2 separate regions of the Homo sapiens genome follow, and region 1 is linked to region 2. Evidence: fine-mapped expression QTL. A gene starts in region 2. The other region holds a variant in brackets. All regions are shown on one strand. Distances are between the middles of the regions.

Region 1 (10,510 bases), 64 kb before region 2:
GGCTGGAGACCGAAGCAGGCCGCATGATTGTATTTTCCTTCCCTAGGAGCCAGAAACACGCGTTGGCAACATAGGAAAATTCTCCTCTAGCAACTACACTGGCATGGCCTCTTCCAGTCATTAAGCCATATCTGTTACCAGAGATGCCTTTAAACATTAATTTACCTTTTAGAAAGTAGGTTATTTTGCTAAAATGGAAAAACTAAAGCTAAACAAACAATAACCCCACTAACATTCTGTGTGAGCTCCGAAGTTTCTTTTATTGAAAAATCTCGAGGTAAGAATGAAGAATGCATGTCACACCGACAGCTGAATGTCCAATTTATTTTAATGAGGTTCTACTTTTCTTTTTCAAAGATGGGATTACTAAACACTAAACAATGCTGAAACCCACATTTGAAATAAAAGATACAGTTTGACTCACTAGGCAGCCTTTTCATTAAAATCGGAATAAAAAACTGAATTTCTGACGATAAGGTTTTTCCTTTTATTTGAGGAGGAAAGAATCAGTAATCACAATTAAATAAGCTTCTTTTATAAACTAGACAGGCCTTTTTGAAACAGAATGCTTTTAGTTAGCCTGGGAAAATGCATAAATTATACTATCAATTAGACTATTCTTGTACAGTGTCGTATCTGTGTGGTCTTTCCAAAAGCTATTAGACTTCATTCTCCAAAAGCTATCAGACTTCATTTTGGGAGTACGTGTCCTTTCCCCCTTTTCTTTTGCTCAGAAGACTAATAGTACCTGGTCTTTTTATTTTTTTTTTTTTGAGACAGAGTCTTGCTCTGTCATCCAGGCTGGAGTGCAGTGGCATGATCTCAGCTCACTGCAACCTCTGCCTCCCAGGTTCAAGCAATTCTCCTGCCTCTGCCTCCTGAGTAGCTGGTATTACATATATACAACACCACGCTGGTTAATTTTGTTCTCTTGTTTTGAGACGGAGTCTTGCTCTGTTGCCCAGGCTGGGGTGCGGTGGCAAGATACTGGCTAACTATAATGTCCACCTCCTGGGTTCAAATGATTCTCCTGCCTCAGCCTCTAGAGTAGCTGGGACTACAAGTGCCTGCCACCACACCCAGCTAATTTTTGTATTTTTAGTAGAGATGGGGTTTTCCCACGTTGGCCAAGCTGGTCTCAAACTCCTGACCTCAGGTGATCTGCCCTCCTTGGCCTCCCAAAGTGCTGGGACTATAGGTGTGAGTCACTGTGCACAGCCTAATTTTTGTATTTTTACTAGAGATGGGGTTTCACCATGTTGACCAAGCTGGTCTTGAACTCCTGGCCTCAAGTGATCCACCTGCCTCAGCCTCCCAAAGTGCTGGGATTACAGCCACTGCACCCAGACAGTACCTGGTCTTTTTAAAACCTATTCTGAATACCCTTTTTAAAAGTCAGTTAGACAAATAAAACAAGTTAATCCCTTTTACCTTTATGAAGAGAACATCTTAAGATGACAGGAAGTAAGTATTAACTAGGTCACTACTTTCACAAAGATTACTCTCTGTTACCCACACCAGGGTGCTGGTAGCAATGACCAGATCTCTCAGTACAAAAGAAATTAATTATATCCTGGCAGTGAGACAGCAGAATGAGGTAGCAAGAATTGTTATTTGACGCTGGAAAGAAAATCTGAGGACAGTTATAGGAGACTCCAATATTAAAGGATTACTCCTGAAAGAGTTCTTCGGTTAAAACTATATCCTGATACTTTTTATTTAAAAATAAGACTCATCTATATTTGGCAGGGTTTTACTTTTAGGTCATAATATTAGTGAAAGTAAGTCCATAAAGCAGCAGGTGATGTGATTTGGCTGTGTCTCCACCCAAAGCTTATCTTGAATTGTAGTTCTCATAATCCCCACGTGTCGTGGGAGGGACCCAGTGGGAAGTAATTGATTCATGGGGTAGCCAGTCTCATGATAGTGAGTGAGTTCTCACAAGAGCTGATGGTTTCATAAGGGGCTTTCCCCTGTTGGCTTGGCACTTCCCCTTCCTGCCGCCACGTGAAGAAGGATGTGTTTGTTTCCCCTTCTGCCATGATTGTAAGTTTCCTGAGGTCTCCCCAGCCCTGCAGAACTGTAAGTCAATTAAACTTCTTTCCTTTATAAATTACCCAGTCTCAGTCAGTTCTTTACAGCACTGTGAGAAAGGACTAATACACCAGGATAATCACTTAGGTGCTAAAAGACACTTCTGCCCACCAACTAGATGACACAGTTACTCAACCTACTTTTCAGCACTCAAAGTCAGTGGATTACAAACTTGTGTGTATTACTGAATGAGGGGGATACTATACTCTCCTTTGATCTATTTAAATGATTAGTAATTGTAAGAGGTTGACTTTGCTTTAGAAAGTAGCCTGGGGAGAAAGAGATCCAAATCCTTTTGTATCTGATGAAACACTATGGAATCTATAGTTATTACATGCTATAGACACAATTATAACATTTTTATAATTGTTACCACTGATATCTGGGGAAGATGATTTGCACATATAGTCTTTAATGCATAAAACAATCCTGTAAAAGGATTTCCAGTCCCATATTACAGAGGAAGAAACAGAATCTCAAAGAGGTTATGTCACTCAAGCATTCAAACTCAAATCTGACTGACTGCAAAGGTTTTGCTACTTCTACTAAACTGTGCTGCCTCTCAGCCAGACTGAAGGGAGTGGCCATAGATTATTGGCAGACAGATTATCTAATAAATATTTTGGTGCTCAATTTTATTTATTTATGTTTTTTGAGTTAGAATCTTGCTCTGTCGCCCTGGCTGGAGTATAGTGGCGTGATCTCAGTTCCAGGGTTCAAGCTATTCTCATACCTTGGCCTCCCAAGTAGCTGAGACTACAGATGCCTGTTAAATTTTTGTATTTTTAGTAGAGACAGGGTTTCACCATATTGGCCAGGCTGATCTTGAACTCCCGACCTCAAGTGATCTGCCCACCTCAGCCTTCCAAAATGCTGGGATTACAGGTGTGAGCCACCATGTCTGGGTGGTGGTCAATATTCAATTAAGTAAATGTAGTGCACAAACTAGATGATGATGATAATGACAATGGTAGCAGCTAACTCTGATTAAGCCTTTGCTATGTGCTGAGCAGTCTTCTAAATGCTTTGCATGTATTCAACCAATTTAATCCTTACAGTGACCATACAAAGCAGGTACTACTAATATTCCCAGTTTATAGGACCTATAATATAGGTAAGAAAACTGGGGCACAGAAAAATTAAGTAACCTACCTAGTAAATGATGATGCCAGACATTCTGGCTTCAGACCCACATTTTAAATCTGTATACTAAGAAGCCCATGTGAGAAATATGGAAGAGTAGAGTCTTTTTTTAAATTAATTTTTTTAGAGATAGGGTCTAGCTCTGTCACCTAGGCTAGAATGCAGCAGTGTGATAATAGCTCACTGTAACCTTAAACTCCTGGACTCAAGTGATCCTCCTGCTTCAGCACAGCTAGGACTACAGGTGTGCACACCACACCTGGCTAATTTTTCATTTTTTTTTTTTTGAGACAGGGTCTCACTCTGTCACCCAGGCTGGAGTGCAGTGTTGCAATCTTGGCTCACTGCAGCCTCCACCTCTGAGGCTCAAGTGATCCTCCCACCTCAGCCTCTCAAGTACCTGGGACTATAGGCATGTACCACTACACCTGGCTAATTTTTGTATTTTTTGTAGCAACAGAGTTTTGCCATGTTGCCCAGTCTGGTCTTGAAGTCCTAGACTCAAGCAATCCACCTGCCTCGGCCTCCCAAAGTGCTGGGACTACAGGCATGAGCCACCACACTTGACCTAATTTTTAAATTTTTTGTAGAGACAGGGCCTCACTATGTTGCCCAGGCTGGTCTCGAACTCCTAGCCTCAAGCAATCCTCCCACCTTGGCCTCCCAAAGTGTTGGGATTACAGGCATGAGCCACTGTGCCTGGCCAAGAGTAGAGTCTTAAAGTAGGCATAGCTGAATCCCTAAGGTCCCTTCCAACAACGTGATCCTCAGTACCTTGGATAGAGGTCCAAATAGAACTGTCCCAATACTTCTCCTGTAGCTTTATCCTTCACAGTATAAAGTGTAACACTCTTGTTCCAAACATGAGCATCTGTCATTTGTTCAAATGAAAGTCCCAACAACTCCTGGTAGGTGTTCAGCAAGCCTTCAGTGACCACCTCAATTGGGAAGTATTCCTTGAGGAACTCTTGGTCTATGGAATAC[T/C]TGAGTTCCTCTGTCTGAGTCATGTAGTAATATAGATCCCAGGCATTGATTTTCCCATCATATTCAAAACCCCTGTCTTTGCATTCCTTTTTCTTCAAATTCAAAATAAACTCTCGTTCTGCTTCACCCAAGGGTTTTAACTTCTGGCTTAAATCATCTGTAAGGAAAAGGAAAAGTTAGTGATCTACTTGCTTTTGGAAGCAAGCATACTCATAAATACCACCTGTGTTTTAGCATGGTGCTTCCTCCTTTGCAGTACTCAATACAGATAAATAAGGCGGAAAGAGGTAAAGGAGGAGGAAAAACGTGAGGGAGGAAAGCAGGCTGTATTATGGAAGCACACTTTGCTCTTCGGGGTTATTGATTTTATGGTCCTAGCCCCTTTTTCTTTTAACACCCCCAGAACTGGGCCATGAGTTCCTCAATTCATCACCAAAGCTCAAGTTTATCTCAGAGAACGCTGACTGAAGAATGTTATTCAGGGAAAAAAGCACTAGTGAAACTAAAGTCATGTACATGATTATTCTTCAATGAAGACAGTCAGACTCCTAAGAAAGCTAGGGAAAACACATCAGATGTGACCTGTGGTCAATGTTATCTAGAAATTCCTATCACTGGGTTTAGTTTCTCATTACCCCATTTCTGTGAAGGTTTATCTGGACACAGCAATTCCAGTTTTTAGCTGGAGAAACTTCTGAGAACCACAAATTATATTGCTGTGGTCAATTTTTCACTTTACTGTATTTGGATAAATGAGTATGGTCTTATGTATTTATTTTTTACATTTTGTTACATACGTTACGATAAAAACATGCCTGGCTCTGCAAAGGACATGGCAGTTCAGAAGGCAACCTCACAATGTGAGAGATGGAGGAGCAGCCCGAGGAATACCGTGAAGAGAAGTGAGGAAACTCATGGAGGATACAAAGATATAGTTTTCCATATATATATCCATGTGCATGTGTGCGTGCATGTGTCTGTGTGTGCGCATGTATGTATACACACACACACACACACACATACATATATATATATATAAAGAGAGAGAGAGAGAGTGAGTGAGTTTTGCTATGTTGCCCAGGCTGGACTCCAACTCTCAGATTCAAGGGATCCTCGCACTTTAGCCTCTCAAGAGGACACTTTGCATAGGAATATGCCAATCTCAAATTAGAAGGAAAACTCCTTTAAATGAATTAAGTTAATCAGGTGGTTACTAAGGAAAATTTTAGTGTATGCAATCACCACTGAAGGAAACATTCTTTACAAACCTGTTAACTCTCTGAGCCATCCTCTTGTATACCATGCATCAGACTGTAGAGTAATTACCTGTTCACACTTCTGTTGTTTCTAGTAAGTGACAAATCCATTGAGAAAAAGACCTTGTCTCTTTTTAAAAAATTATTTTTATTTTTAGAGACAGGATTTTGCTCTGTCACCCAGGCTGGAGCACAGTGGCATGATCATGGCTCACTGCAGCCTTGAACTCCTGGGCTCAAGGGATCCTCCCACCTCAGCCTCCCAAGTAGCTAGAATTACAGGCATGTGCTACCATGCCTGGCTAATTTTTAAATTTTTCTGTAGAGACAGGGTTGGGGTCTCTTTGTTTCCCAAGCTGGTCTTGGACTCTGGGTCTCAAGTAGTCCTCTCACCTCGGCCTCCCGAAGTGCTGGGATTACAGGCATGAACTGCCATGCCCAGCCAAAAGGACCTTGTTTTACTCCTTTCTGTAATCCTACTATTTAGCATACTGCCTAAGGCTGAATAGTTATTTCATAAACGTCTCATGAATGAATGAGTGAATTATACAAAAACAAATATGTACCATTTATGGAGTTTAACATTATAGTTACTAGATAACAGTTTTTATACATATTATTTTATATTAGTTATTAGATACTAGTTTTATGTATATTATTTTATATTAGTTTTGTATATTAACAAGTGGTTTCTGGAATATTAAATGTTTTTTGTTTATGTATGTTTTATTTTTATGTACGTCATATTTGTCAGCTTATTTTATACAAATTCATAAGCAGCCATGCTATGACTACTAAATCCCTAGTGAAGAGAATAAAGCCAGTAACTTTAGTAACTCTCTGTTAGAACCTACATGTCATGTTAGGAATTAGTATAAAAAGCCTAAAGAAGATATAAGATACAGTGAAGCCAGGCCTATACTAGCAATATAAACAATAAGCAGTCCCTACAACCAAGCACACTATCTAACACTTAATAGGTGATCAATATACTTCTCTCAAATGAAGGAAAAGTAGGATGTCCTCAAAGGCATATTATGTTCTGAGGCCTTCTGTCTGGTTGACATGGTATAGCAAAACAGTCATAGAAAAAAAAAAAAGAACTAACCTAGAAAGGCTGTTACGCGGCTTGTGCTCTTTGCAGTGTTCATTTCAAGGACGAAGTCAGCATGTGTGCTATAACCGAGTAGTTTGGCCACCTTGGTTCGCAGTGGGAGTAGCTGCTGCAAAATTATGGTGTTTTCCTAGTAATAAACAACAGCAACAAAATAAAGGCTAATCAATAATTTGATCCAAAGCACTAAAAGGAAGAATTACTGTATGTATTTTTAGGTTTGTAAAATTATCAAATATTTTTAGACCATTTAAATTTCTGGTTCCATTTTGGTGTTATAGGCTTTTTTTTTTTTTTTTGGATTCATGATTTCGTTTTATTTCTGAAACAATTTATGACTTTTTAAACTTCAGAACTATGAGGTCTTAATAAAATTGTAGGTGCTACAAACTTAGAGTGAAAATATATTTTTAAGGAATATAGCGAATCCATATTTACTTCTACTGACAGAACTGCACCAAATATTGGTACTTTCAGTTCCTTTGGACATTTTTATTGTGGTAAAATACACATAACGTAAAATTTATCTTTTTAATTTCATACCCAGTTGTATGGCTACTATTTTTAAAAACATAGAAAATGTGCTGGTGAGGAAATGGAGAAATTGGAACCCTTGCACATTGCTGATGAGAATGTAAAGTAGTTTAGCTGCTGTAGAAAACGGTATGGTGATTCCTAAAAAAATTATACCATATGATCCAGCAATTCTACATCTCAGTAAATAACAAAGATAATTGAAAGCAGAGACTCGAAGAGAGATCTATACACCCATGTCCACAGCAGCATTATTTATAACAGCCAAAAGATGGAAGCAACCCAAGTGTCCATGGACAGATATACAGGTAAACAAAATGTGGTATATATATACAATGGAATATAACTCTGCCTTTACAAGGAAGGAAATTCTGACACATGCTACAACATGGATGACCCTTTAAGGTATGCTAAGTGAAATAAGCCAGATACAAAAAGACAAATATTTTATTATTCCACTTATATGAAGTTCCTAGAGTAGTGAAATTCACAGAGACACAGAATAGAATAGTAATTGCCAGGGCCTGGGGATAGGGGATAATGGGGAGTTAATGCTTAATGGGTAGAGTTTCAGTTAAGGAAGATGAAAAAACTCTGCAGGTGGATACAGGTGATGGCTGCAGAAAAATATAAACATATTCTCAATGTGAATATACTTAATGCCACATGCTATGGTCTGAATGTTCCCCAAAATTCATGTGTTGAAACATAATCCCTTTTGAGGTAGTGTTAAATGGCAGGGCCTTTTGGGAATTGACCAATGAATTAGTGCCTTATAAAAGGGCTACAGCTAAAGAACTTGGGCCTTTTCTGCCCTTCCCCCTTCTGCCATGTGAGGATATAGAAAAAAGGCCCTTTCTAGACACTGAATGCCGATGCCCCTTGATCTTGAATTTCTCAGCCTTCAGAACTGTGAAAAATTTCTATTGTTCATAAATTACTTCGTCTGTGGTATTTTGTTATAGCAGCACAAATGAACTAAGGCACCATAAAATTCTGCTTTTAAAAATGTTTCAGGGATTTTTCCCAAATTAACATTACAAATATCTTTTATATTTTATTTGTATTAAAAATACAAAAATTGATATTATTTTATTATTTTCTTAGCAATGAAATAAAAGTAATTCTCCTAGAGGAAGTAAGTAAATGTTAAAGTAAAAGAAAAAACTGATTCCAATAATCAAATCAGCAAATTATTTATAGACTGGTTTCTAAGGAAAATCACACACTGAGGTCACACTACCTGCATTCAAAATTTGGTTCCACCATTTACTAGTTACCTGATCTTGGGCAAATTCTGGAGCTTTCTGACCCTCAGTTTTCTCATTTGCAAGATGTGGAAAATAAAAATACATACACTGGAGAGTAATCATGAAGATTCAAATGAAAATATATGTAAAGTGCTTAGACAAATGCCTGGCACATAACCAAACACTATATAATTATCTGTTATAATTATTATTATTTTAAAACTAAAATGGAAAACATAGAAGAGAAACATACATAATGTAATTCTCCAAGTTCTAAAATTAAATAGTTTAATTAGATTTTTCTTTCATTTTTTGCAGTTTCTCCAGATCTTCTCTCTAGACTGCCAATTTTCTCCCAATATCTGTTCTCTCATTTTTTCTTTTAGTAATATAACTCTGAATTTTTTTTTTTTTTTTAATTTTCATAGAGGTGAGGTCTTGCCATATTGCTGAGGCTGGTCTTGAACTCCTGGCCTCAAGCAATCCTCTTGCCTTGGCCTCCCAAAGCGTTGGGATTACAAGTGTGAGCCACTGTGCCTGGCTGAACTCTGAATTTTTGCCGGACACTTGGTTACCTAATTACGTTTCCCAGCCTTCCTCAAAGCCAGCTGTGGCCATGTGATACTCAATGGGACAATGGGATGTGAATGAAGTGATGAGTGAAATTTCTGGGTCATGTCTGATAGATCTTTGCCTTGCTGGCTGTGAACTGAAGATGACCTCAATGACCCTGAAAGCCACACCCTGAGGATGGTAGAGCTGTCTTCCACCTCTGGACCACTCACCTCTTGACTTACAGTTATAAGACAAATCTTTTAAAAAAAAATTGTGGTAAAATCTGCCATTTTAGCCATGTAAAATTCAACGGCAATAATACTCATTCTATTGTGCAACCACTACCATCATCTGTTTCTAAAACTTATCCATTACCCCAAACAGAAACTCTGTAACCATTAACTCCTCAGTCTTCCCTCTCCCCATTCCCTGGTAACCTCTAATCTACTTTCTGGAAAGATAAAACTTTTATCTTATTTGAGTTAACTGTGCTTTTGACTTCTGTCAAGTCCCTTAGCCTGGACCCTAACATATGTAGAGATTAATACCAGAAATTGGGTGGTACTAACAATAAAAATGAAAAATGTACAGGAATGGAAGGTAAGGACCCAGACATTGCAGGCTGGGAAGCAGGTTCTCATTATACCATGGGCATTTGTGAAAACTGTTGCTTGCCATAACTCAGACAGCAGGCCATGTACCTACTGAGTCTTAGCCTAGAGGAATTGTTTGGGAAAGCTAATACTGTTGGGAGGTGTTTTTTTGGCATTTGTTGCTTTTTGAAAGATTACATGGGAGAGATAAGCTTGGGTGAGAATTGGCCAGTTTCTAAAGATGGAAGGAAAAGAATTCTGCTCAGGGAGGTTCTGCCTATGGCCTACAATCTTCAGATGGTTGGAAAAGCCAATTGCTCTGTGTTCCTAGTGTTAAGAGAAAAGGCTGTCACTCCGAGTTACTGAACTGCAGACATGAATTTGAGAATGCTGCCTTCCTCCACAAGCTCACTATGTTCAGAGGGCCTGAAAGCAGACTTCATTAAATGGAGGAAGAGTGAGATGGATAAATTCAGAAGACAGTATATAAGATTTGGCAAGTTTAAGAACTATGACCAAAAGTGATATTTGGGTATAGTTATTTTGACATGCATCTGATTAGCAGCAAACAGACAACAAACCTACATTTTTGAGGAGGCTGTATTACCAAAGATATCGTAAGTCTGGCCTACAAAAGTTTGGATTATTTGATCCCTAAAGCAACCCTTGGGATTCTACCTGACATTAGCAGGACCAGCAGTCCCCCAAGATATGGTCATCAAGGATAATGGACAAAAACAATTCCCTGTGGGCAAAACTGGGGGCCATGGAGTAAAATTGATAAAGGAATTCTTATGAGAAAGCAGACCCAAGTTTAGTCCAACAAGCTAACCAAGAAACGTCACCATAGTACAGAATCTTCCCAGTTCCTGAGGAATTTGAAAATTTTAGAAAATTGCTATGAGCTTGCTATGTTTCCCAGTCTTTCTTTTTCCAAATGGGACTTTTCAGTGCGGTTATTCTTTTCCTATGCCATCACTGGGAGTG
Region 2 (10,510 bases):
AACACGCATTGCTGTCATCATTTTAAAAAACCAAGCTGTGTTTTTTAGGCCAGGTGCAGTGGCTCACGCCTATAATCCCAGCACTTTAGGAAGCTGAGGTGGGCAGATCACTTGAGGTCAGGAGTTCAAGACCAGCCAGGCCCACATAGTGAAACCCCAGCTCTACTAAAAATACAAAAAATCAGCCAGGCGTGGTTGTGGGGACCTGTAATCCCAGCCACTCAGGAGCCTGAGGCAGGATAATTGCTTGAACCCAGAAGGCAGAGGTTGCAGTGAGCCGAGATCATGCCACTGTATTCCAGCCTGGGCAACAGAGCGAGACTGTCTCAAAAAAACAAAAACCAAAAAACAAACCAAGCTGTCTTTTCTAATTGCAAGAGGAAGCTAGGCTATTACAGCTATTGTTTCGGCTAAATATTGTTGAGTCAACCTTCTCGTTTGTTTCTTTGACCATGTCACTCATCCCTCTTATTCTATAATATACATTAGGCTTTGCTTGGGTCACATGCTGTACAATCTGAGGTAGGAGGAGGAATTCTCCTGGTTTGCTATGGCAATATAGAGGTTTTTTGCTTTTTGTTTTTTTTTTAAGGCCTTAGCTATTATTTAGTCTAGTCCTTTTCATTTTACAATATAAGGAACCTGGGCCAGGCATGATAGTACACTCCTGTAATCCCAGCACTTTCAGAGGTTGAGATGGGAGGATCATTTGTGGCCAGGAATTCTAGACTAGCCTCGGCAACATAGCAAGATCCTATCTCTACAAACAATTTTTTCAAATTAGCTGGGCATGGTGGTGAGCGCCTGTAGTCCCAGCTACTCAGAAGGCTGAGGCAGGGAGGATTGTTTGAAACCAGAGTTTGAGACCGCAGTGAGCCATGATCATGCCCCACTGCACTTCAGCCTGGATGACAGAGTGAGACCTTGTCTCTAAAATACATACATACATAGGTACATAACTTGAAAGAGGTCCAAGGGAGTGAGTGATTTTTTTAAGGTCACAAAGTGAATTGAACAGCAACTATAATCCAAACTCCAGATTCTCAGTCCACTTATTCCCAAGAAGTTGGCTGAACACCCCAATCAATGATCCTAGCTGGAAGCTGGCCTTGGGAAGGGGATATAGCAGCTCTGCCAACAAGAAAACCCAATGGAAACTGTAAGTCAGTTAGGCAAAAGCCTAGTTACTCCATAACACTAAAATGAACTCCCAAGTGTCAGAGGAAACAGGAAAAACAGGAGAACACAGGGGGTCCTCCATGTTGTCTAATATGAACTCTTTTGGAAGATACTGATTTTGAAACAGAGCAGATTCTGTGATTAAGTCAAGGAAGCCCTGGGTTAAGGACTACCATATATGATGATTAACTGTAAGATATGCCCTTATGTAACAAATTAGTTAATATATTTATGGTAGCTTCTAACAAGGTAATAATTTTTTGGCTATTAGTATATTTATTTTCTTCCATGCATAAACAAAGAATCTAATACCACATATCGGCAGCTCTCAAAATGTAGTCCACAAACCTTAAAGGTAGAGGTATGGGGAGGGGTTCCTGAGACACTTTCAAGGAATCTGTGAGGTTAAAAATCTTTCATAACAATACTAAGACATTATTTATCCTTTTTACTTTATGAACATTTGCACTGATGGCGAAAAGGAATGGTGGATAATACTGTTGGTACTTCAGCACAAATTGAGGCAATGACACCAAACTATACTAGTAGCTATATTTTTCATTGCCATGCACTCAGGCTAAAAATAATGTCAATTTCATTTTAGAATATCCTTAATGAAATGGTAAAAAGTATGAATTTTTATTAAATCTCTACCTTTGAGTTATATGTGACCAAGTACACACAAAGCATTTCTGCTGTGTACCTGAGTATAAGGGTTGTCCTGAGGATTTGGTTGCCCAAATCAAAAGCACTTTTGCAATTGGTTGAACTGTGAGCTGAAATAGATTTTTTTCATGGAAAACCATTTTTTTTTTTTTTTTTTTGAGACGGAGTCTCGCTCTGTCGCCCAGGCTGGAGTGCAGTGGCACAATCTCGGCGCACTGCAAACTCCACCTTCCGGGTTCACGCCATTCTCCTGCCTCAGCCTCCCGAGTAGTTGGGACTACAGGCGCCCGCCACCACGCCCGGCTAATTTTTTGTATTTTCAGTAGAGACAGGGTTTCACCGTGTTAGCCAGGATGGTCTCGATCTCCTGACTTCGTGATCCACCTGCCATGGCCTCCCAAAGTGCTGGGATTACAGGCGTGAGCCACCGTGCCCAGCCCATGGAACACCATTTTTACCAGAAAAAAACTACTGACAGACAAACCAGGGTTATTCAGACTTAAGTATGTGGCAGAAATTCTGTCAAAAATGTAACAAAGTGAGATTGTCACTTCAAGTAAAACAACTGACAGTTTGTGTTACCAATGATAAAATTCTAGCTTTCAAGTGAAAACTAGAATTTTGGAAAATCCTATCTGCCACTGTGAGCTTGACAGCTTCCCAATACTTGAAGACTTTTCCGACTAAATAGGAAGACATTAAGGAAAGTGATTGTTTGATACTGTATAATGAAATATGTCAACATTAGGAAGAACTGTATAACACAGTGAACCACTAAAATTTCCGAAGGACTTATGCTTAATGTTTTAAAAAACAGGCATGGATTCAACATCCATTCAAAGTGTAAGGTACACCATTGGATATTAATGTAACAGTGTAAAACAAGTACATTGATATAGTTTCAAATTCCACTTTGTAACTAACCTTTAAAAAGCTACGATTTGTCAAACTTTGATGTGATATCAAAGAACATCCATGATTATCTTTAAAAAGCTATTAAAATATTCTTCTTTCCAACTTCATATGACTGTGAGGTGGGATTTTCTTCATCTTAAACCAAAATGAAACAGTGCAGCAGCTTAAATGCAGAGGCAGACATAAGAATCCAGTTACCTTCTATTATGTCACACATTAGTTTTGCAAAAATGCGAAACAGTGCCACTTCTGCCGGGCGCAGTGGCTCACGCCTGTAATCCCAGCACTTTGGGAGGCCGAGACAGGCGGATCACGAGGTCAGGAGATCGAGACCATCCTGGCTAACAGGATGAAACCCCGTCTCTACTAAAAATAAAAAAAAAAAATTAGCCGGGCGTGGTTGCGGGCGCCTGTAGTCCCAGCTACTTGGGAGGCTGAGGCAGGGGAATGGCGTGAACCCGGGAGGCGGCGCTTGCAGTGAGCCGAGATAGCGCCACTGCATTCCAGCCTGGGCGACAGAGAGAGACTCTGTCTCAAAAAAAAAAAAAAAGAAAAAAAAAAGAAACAATGCCACTCCTAGGATAACTGTTATCAAAACCAGGAAATAAGTGCTGATGATGATGTGGAGAAATTGGAATCCTTAGGTACTGCCAATGGGAATGTAAAAATGGTACAGCCACTGAAGAAAACAGTATGGTTTCAAAAACTAAACATAGTACTATCCTATGACTCAGCAATTTTCACTTCTAGGTACATACAGTATCCCAAAGAATTAAAAGCAGGGATTCAAACAGACATGTGCACATTAATGATCATAGTAGTAGTATTCACAATAGCCAAAAGGTGGAAGCAACCCAAATGTCCACTGACAAATGGATAAACAAAATGTGGTATATACATACAATGAAATATTATTCAGTTTTAAAAAGGAAATCCCGACACATGCTTCAAAACGAATAAACCTTAAAAACGCTATACTAAATAAACCAGACGCAAAAGGACAAATATTGTCTAATTCCACTTATATAAGGGACCTGAAATACTCAAATTCATAGAGAAAAAATAATGGTTAACCAGGGATTGGGGGAGGAAGTAATGGGCAGTTATTGTGTAATAGGTACAGGGTTTCAGTTTGGGATGATGACAAGTTCTGGAGATGGACAGTGGTGTTGGCTGTACCTCTCAATTGTACACTTAAAAATTATCAAAATGGTAAATTTTGTTATATCTTACCACAATTTTAAAAAAAAGGGAAAAAACCCCACAATGTTAATCTTCTCACTGATTGGGGGGCGGGGGGGTTGGTTTGGAAAATAGTTATTTTTCATTAAAATCACTATTTATGCACCTAGCCTATTTATTAGTTTTGTAAATTAACAACTACTTTAATTTTTTTCCAGCTTTAATGTCTAATATGGTAAATATAGACAGATATACCACACAAACAGAAGCTCTTAGGTCCACGGTAATTTTTGAAAGGTAAAGGGGTCCTGAGAATAAAAAGTTTGAGAATTGTTCTTTTTTTTTTTTTTTTTTTTTTGAGACGGAGTCTTGCTCTGTCGCCCAGGCTAGAGTACAGTGGTGCGATCTCGGCTCACTGCAAGCTTCGCCTCCCGGGTTCATGCCATTCTCCTGCCTCAGCCTCCCGAGTAGCTGGGACTACAGGCGCCCGCCACCACGCCCGGCTAATTTTTTGTATTTTTTAGTAGAGACGGGGTTTCACCGTGTTAGCCAGGATGGTCTCGATCTCCTGACCTCGTGATCCACCCGCCTCGGCCTCCCAAAGTGCTGGGATTACAGGCATGAGCCACAGCGCCCGGCCGAGAATTGCTCTTATATGAAGATTTATTCCCTCCTCTCACCCCTGCATTATGTGAAGTCTTCATTTCTTGGTATAACTTCATTTGACAGCTATATCGATTGCAGCCTGGAGACTAGCAAAAAACGACAGGCTGAAATATGGTCACCAATCACCACATTAACTCTTTGTAATTAACCACTGTCGCCTGCCTGCTCCCTAACTCTACGGACTGAGCAACACAAAGCTCCATCCACACAGACGAGTGGCAATGTGCAAAAGGGAACTGTAGAAAGCTTAAATGCTGACATGTTACAAAGTAGTTTTGTTGATAGCTAGCAAGAAGCACACATTTTCTTTATTCTGTTGAATCTTCATTTGGATTTACAGTTCTGGGCAGATTTGGAAACGGGGATGGTGGCGGCATTGTTTCCGAAAACCAGCGCATCCGTGCAAAGAATTTAATTCCCTCACCATCTTGCTACTGGTCTGTTGCAGTGGGGTGTGGTTAGAGGGCTAGGAAGCAATCCAAAACAGCAGCTCAGGCTGCCCAAAGCCGTGTCCAAGCGATCATTTTCTCCATTTTGGGCCAAGTCAATTTGCACCGGCAAGAGGCAGAATGTTTGTTTTATGGGGAGGAGGAAAATAAAAAAGGAAGTCAGAGAGCATGGACGGAAACAAGCAACACCACCAAAGAGGTTTCATCTCGGGTGGATGTTAAACGATTGGAATGCTAATAATGGGCGCGAGGAGCAAACACAATTGTTCTGAGTCCACAGCTGCGGCACTTTTAATGACAGGTCTGTAGTTCTGCATTGGGATTGAACGTGAAATGATTTTCTTATCCAAACTATTTGCATTCATTTTGGGCCGCGTCTGTGACCAGCCTCGCTGACTGCGGCTGAGGCAGTCCCAAACAAAGAGGAATGGACGTCCTCCCGAGGGAGCGGAGGCGGGAAAGGTGGCCCCAGGTGGCCGCGCCAGGTGTCCCCCAGGGGTCCACCTTGCAAGCCGCGGGGAGGGTGCGTCCCGGGAGCGTCGGAGAGGCGCGGTCGGGAAGGGGTGGGTCCGGGCTCCAGGCACCACACGGCGAAAGACCCCGCCCTGCCCACGGCCAAGGTTAACCCGCGCGCTGGAGGTACCTGCGGAGGCTTCGCACAGCCAAAAGGCACCGGGCGATCATGGGAGCGCTGAGAGGCTGGCGGCGGCGGGCGCGTGGTCCTTCGGCGTGGGGCGGCGAGGCGGGCGGCAGCGCCTGGGCGCCCGGGAGTCTCGAGCCGGCCTAGCCGCAGAGGCCACAGTGGCTGCCTGGCCAGCGCCCTCCCACGTGCGGCAGCTCCACGCCGGCGCCTACCAGCCCCGCCCCGCGCCGTGCCCCGCCCCAGCTCGCGTGTCTGGCCCCGCCCCAGCCCTCGCGTCCGGCCCCGCCCCAGGGGCGGTGCTGGCCAGACCCTGCCGCCTGAGAGAGAGCACAGCCTGGTGGGTTCTGGGGTCTACGGCCTAGGGGCCGGGGAAGTTTGCGCCGCCGCGACCAGTGCTGCGATCCCGAGCCGGGCTCCAGCCCCGAGGACCAGGGGTCGGGCGGGCCTGCCTACGGAACCCCGCGGGCCAGCAGCAGTCGTCTCGCGTCCTCCTGCTTGGTAAGGGGCTTCTGTCTGGCAAGGGTGCGCCTCCCGCCGCTCCGGACCGGGGCCCGCACCGGCACCCGCTGCACACCGGGCAGGGCCGAGGCGAGGCCGGGTACCTGAGGGAGGACGGAAGGGAGGGGGAGCTCGATGCGCTCTGGGGAGAGGAAGGGGGAGAAGCCTATTTCCCTCTTCTCACCCCTTTTCCCCCCATTCTGTTTTTACCTTCTGCCCTGGGGCCTTATTTAGTGCTTATGACCCCGTGGCCTAGAGGCTGACATCGCCTTTAAAATAACTACACAAATAATAAACATTATAGCGGCGGGTACCACACCCTGGCTTTGAATTAGGGAACCTGGGGAGCAGATGGATGATGCGATTTGGTGGAAATCAGCCATGAATGCCGCCTGGCCCTGCGCCACTGTTTGGATGCGATAGTATTCCATGTGAATGAACATGACCGGGAGCTTCCAGCTTGTCCACGAGAGCACAGCCTCTGCAGGGAGCGCCGGTCGGCTTGTAGTATCCATCGACTTGGGCAGCGATTTCCTGACATGTCTGCTGATTAAATAGAAATGCCATTTTTATTAAGAACGACACTCACCACTTGAATAACCTTTCGCGAATGTGTTTCCTCATCAAATAACTCTCAACCTACAAAAGTGGGTAGAGTGTACATTATTAATACTTTTTTTAGATCCCATGAAAAAGAGGAAGATGCTTGGTATACATCAGCTTTTAGTCAGCAGTATGAAATGCCTCTTAACTTAGTACTGAGGCCTTTAGGGGATTTCTGTATGGTGAGATATGCAGTGACAGTCTAAGCTTATGCTGTACATGTTTTGAAGACATTTTTACTTATTCCAAGATTTAACATACTCGTATACCACTGGGTATTAATGAAAATATGTAATAAATTACCTTCACAATACTTTGTGCTCTCCTGACTCTTTACAAAGAGAAAAGATGAAAGGTCATACAGTTTTGTGTTTTGTTTTTACCTTTAATACACTTTATAACCCATATCATCTTTGTAATTTATGACTTTCCTGACTGATTCTTTAAAATAACTTAGTTCAGTGTTTTCATTTTTCTTATCAAGGAAAAGTGTTTAAGCTTCTAAAATGTCATCTATCAAGCACCTGGTTTATGCAGTTATTCGTTTCTTACGGGAACAAAGTCAGATGGACACTTACACCTCGGATGAACAAGAAAGTTTGGAAGGTATGCATCTGCTCTTTGTGTTCATTTATATTATAATTATAAACGAAGACTAAAATAGCTGTAAGCCCAACTTGATGATCTATTGTAACATAATCAGAATTTTTTTTGATCTTTCAAGAGGAGAGGCCTGACTATAAGGTTATCGTATTTCCATTTTCTGAAGCTTGTTTTGTTTGTTTTAACAACAAATTAAGAGGACTATTGTTCATTTATTGAACAAATACTATATGTCAGAAGTATGCTGTTCATATTATAGGCAATTTTTTCTTCACAGCAACTGTTATGTTAGTATTATCCCCATTTAACAAGTGAGAAAATAAAACCAGGGCCAGGCTTGGTGGCTCATGCCTGTAATCCCAGCACTTTGGGAGGCCGAGGCAGGTAGGTCATTTGAGGTCAGGAGTTCAAGACCAGGCTGGGCAACATGGCAAAACCCTGTCTCTACTAAAAATACAAAAAGTAGCCAGGTGTGGTGGCACTTGCCTGTAGTCCCAGCTACTCAGGAGGCTGAGATAGGAGGGTGGCTTAAACCCAGGAGGTGGAGGTTGCAGTGAGCTGAGATCACACCACTGCACTCCAGCCTGGGCCATGAGCGAGACCCTATCTCAAAAAAAAAAAAAAAAAAAGAAAAAGAAAATGAAACCAAATAGCGTAAGCAGATAACACAGCTGATATGTGATAAAGCTGAGATTTAAATCCTGGTTAATACTCTGAAGATCTTGTTGTCTCCATTTCCTAATAGGAAAGCATCCAGTTTAGAAATAATATATAAAAATACCTGAGTCATTTTAATAGCACTATGTAAAAGTCTAATAATTATACCACTAGTGAGATCTGACCAGTGCCTAATTTGGAACTTGAAATGGGAGCATTTCACCTGTGTTTTACGTTAACTTTAATATTGGATTCGGTAATCTGTAAAGTTGAACAGGATGTGGGTGATAGCATCATGTGTTTCCTCGACACCGTCTTTGTTCTTCATGTTTATGTGTTATAAAATTTAAATTCAGTACAACCATAACAAGGTAGAATTCTGCAGATGGGCTTGTGGAGGTTCAGTGAATCTGGTGTCCCTGTGGCCTAAAGTCTTTTATTTATTTATTTATTTTTTGAGACAGGGTCTGTCTGGCTCTGTCACCCAGGCTGGAGTGTAGTGGCACAATCTCGGCTCACTGCAACCTCCACCTCCTGGGCTCAATTGATCCTCCCACCTCGGCCTCCTGAGTAGCTGGGACTACAGGAGTACACTACCACACCCGGCTAAGTTTTGTATTTTTTTTTGTAGAGACAGAGTTTCGCCATGTTGCCCAGGCTGTTCTCAAACTCCTGGGCTCAAGTGATCCACTCGCCTTGGCCTCCCAAAGTACTGAGATTACAGGCATGAGCCACCCCTCCCAGCCCCAAAGTCTTAATTATTGCAGTGAGAGTGCATTTGGAAGAACTTAATAAATGACAGTATAGTTATAAATCCCATCTTGAAACTGCTTCTATAATTTCAACAAGCATTTCCCTGTGAATATGCTTTTAGGAGGTGGAGATGAAAATTGGGCATTTGCTCTAAACCTCCTTGCAGTCTGGTTAGTTGATGTCTTTCCAGGTGGCAGTGAGAGGAGCAGGTGATGCACAGTTGGAGAACATTGCAATCAGTCCATTTAATATTAAGGTCTTTTTGTTCTCCTTGATGATTAGACTATGTGAAAATAAAGTTGATTGGTTATCTAAGGAGAATGTTAGTTATGATTGCTCTGTAGCAAACAGATAAATGCAGTCATTTAAGAAAAGATGTTTCTTTTCTAATCAAAAGCAGCATAAAAGTTTTAAGGGCCAGAAAGAAAATTGAGGGTTTTTTTTTCAAACCAAGATGTTATGTCCTATTTTTAGGATGGTATTCAGCCAAAAATATGTGCCTTCAGCTGTTTGTTATATATGGCAGTCAGAAAGGGTGCCAATTGTTTTTGACTGACCCCTATTTTTGACTCTGTGAGTCTAATTTAATTGAACATGAAATCATGTGGAGGTGTCTGCCCACCTTCTAGACATTTTTAAAAGCCCTAGGAAAGAAGCCTCAGTTCTAATACCAGCTTTACCACTACTGTGAAGCTGGTATATCATCAGCTTTGTCTTGCCATCAGATTATGTCACCCACTCCTCTTAATTATTGTCATCTACTGACATTTGCTTCATTCCTTGACTAATTGTGGTTCCTGCTCACTGTCACTCTCTCTAGCACTACTCCTATTTAGTTCTTGGCAATTGCAATATACTGATTGATGATTATTTTAGTTCCCTGGCTCTCAGTTATTGACCTCATCCAGTGATCTCAAACACTTGATCATATTCTAGATCAGTGGTTCTCAACTTGGGGGTGATTTTGCAATATCTGGATACATTCTGATTGTCACAACTGGGTGAGGCGGGTGGCTGGTATTATTGGCATCTAGTGAGTAGGTAGAGGCCATGGATGCTGCTAATGCACAGGACAGCCCCTGACAAGAAGAAATTACCTGATCCAAAATGTCAGTATGCGGAGATTGAGAAAGCCTTCCCTAGACTTAATCATTACCAGAATTGCATTCCTTCCCTAATCTCTATCCCAAACATTTCACTTCCTGACCACTATTGCCTGTCTTTCCAAGATTACTCCCTCTAGAATCCCTACTCCAGCTATTCTTTGACCCAACCAGTACCTCCAATCTGTTCATGCCTCACCTTTCCCCACACCTCTTCTTACTCATCTTAAATTCCATGGTTGATAATTATAATTATTCCCTTGTATCTCCTTCCCTTTCTTGCAAAGCCCAACTTTGTTTAAATCCAACTCTCCACCTACTTTGTGCCCAACTACTCACACCCACTCATGTAGCCGTAAATAAATGGAGCAAAACACACAACTTTGCTGACTAGTCCCACTTTAAATTCATGACTGTGAACTTCAAGTAGACCTTTAATGCTGTCAGGCAATCACAGTATCTGTTCTAAGTTCATTCATACATTTATTTTCCTAGATGACCATTTTAACACTTTCTCATATCTTCTCAAACCCTCAAACCTCCTTCACTGTCCTCACTTTTAGTTGGTTACCTTGCTTTCTACTCCACCAAGA

What was found.
Region 1: its variant is fine-mapped to the expression of NLN in whole blood (TOPMed, PIP above 0.99). The same link has a PIP of 0.9 or more in blood mononuclear cells.

Annotation. Positions count from the first base shown.
Region 1 is chr5:65,781,986-65,792,495 of GRCh38, reverse strand. NLN (neurolysin) reads right to left here. Exons shown (of 13, transcript NM_020726.5): 7 at 6,586-6,721; 8 at 4,012-4,378; 9 at 1-42. Among named protein-coding and RNA genes, the nearest start is that of NLN, 65 kb to the right of the region's middle. The variant T/C (reference allele first, on the strand shown) is at 4,222.
Region 2 is chr5:65,717,605-65,728,114 of GRCh38, reverse strand. NLN (neurolysin) reads right to left here and starts at 5,910. Exons shown (of 13, transcript NM_020726.5): 1 at 5,701-5,910. The coding sequence starts at 5,741. It overlaps SGTB (small glutamine rich tetratricopeptide repeat co-chaperone beta), which reads left to right and starts at 6,006. Exons shown (of 11, transcript NM_019072.3): 1 at 6,006-6,198; 2 at 7,286-7,407. The coding sequence starts at 7,308. RefSeq lists silencers at 761-810, 5,596-6,205, 6,276-6,325, 6,386-6,435, 8,480-8,676 and enhancers at 4,646-4,725, 4,498-5,319.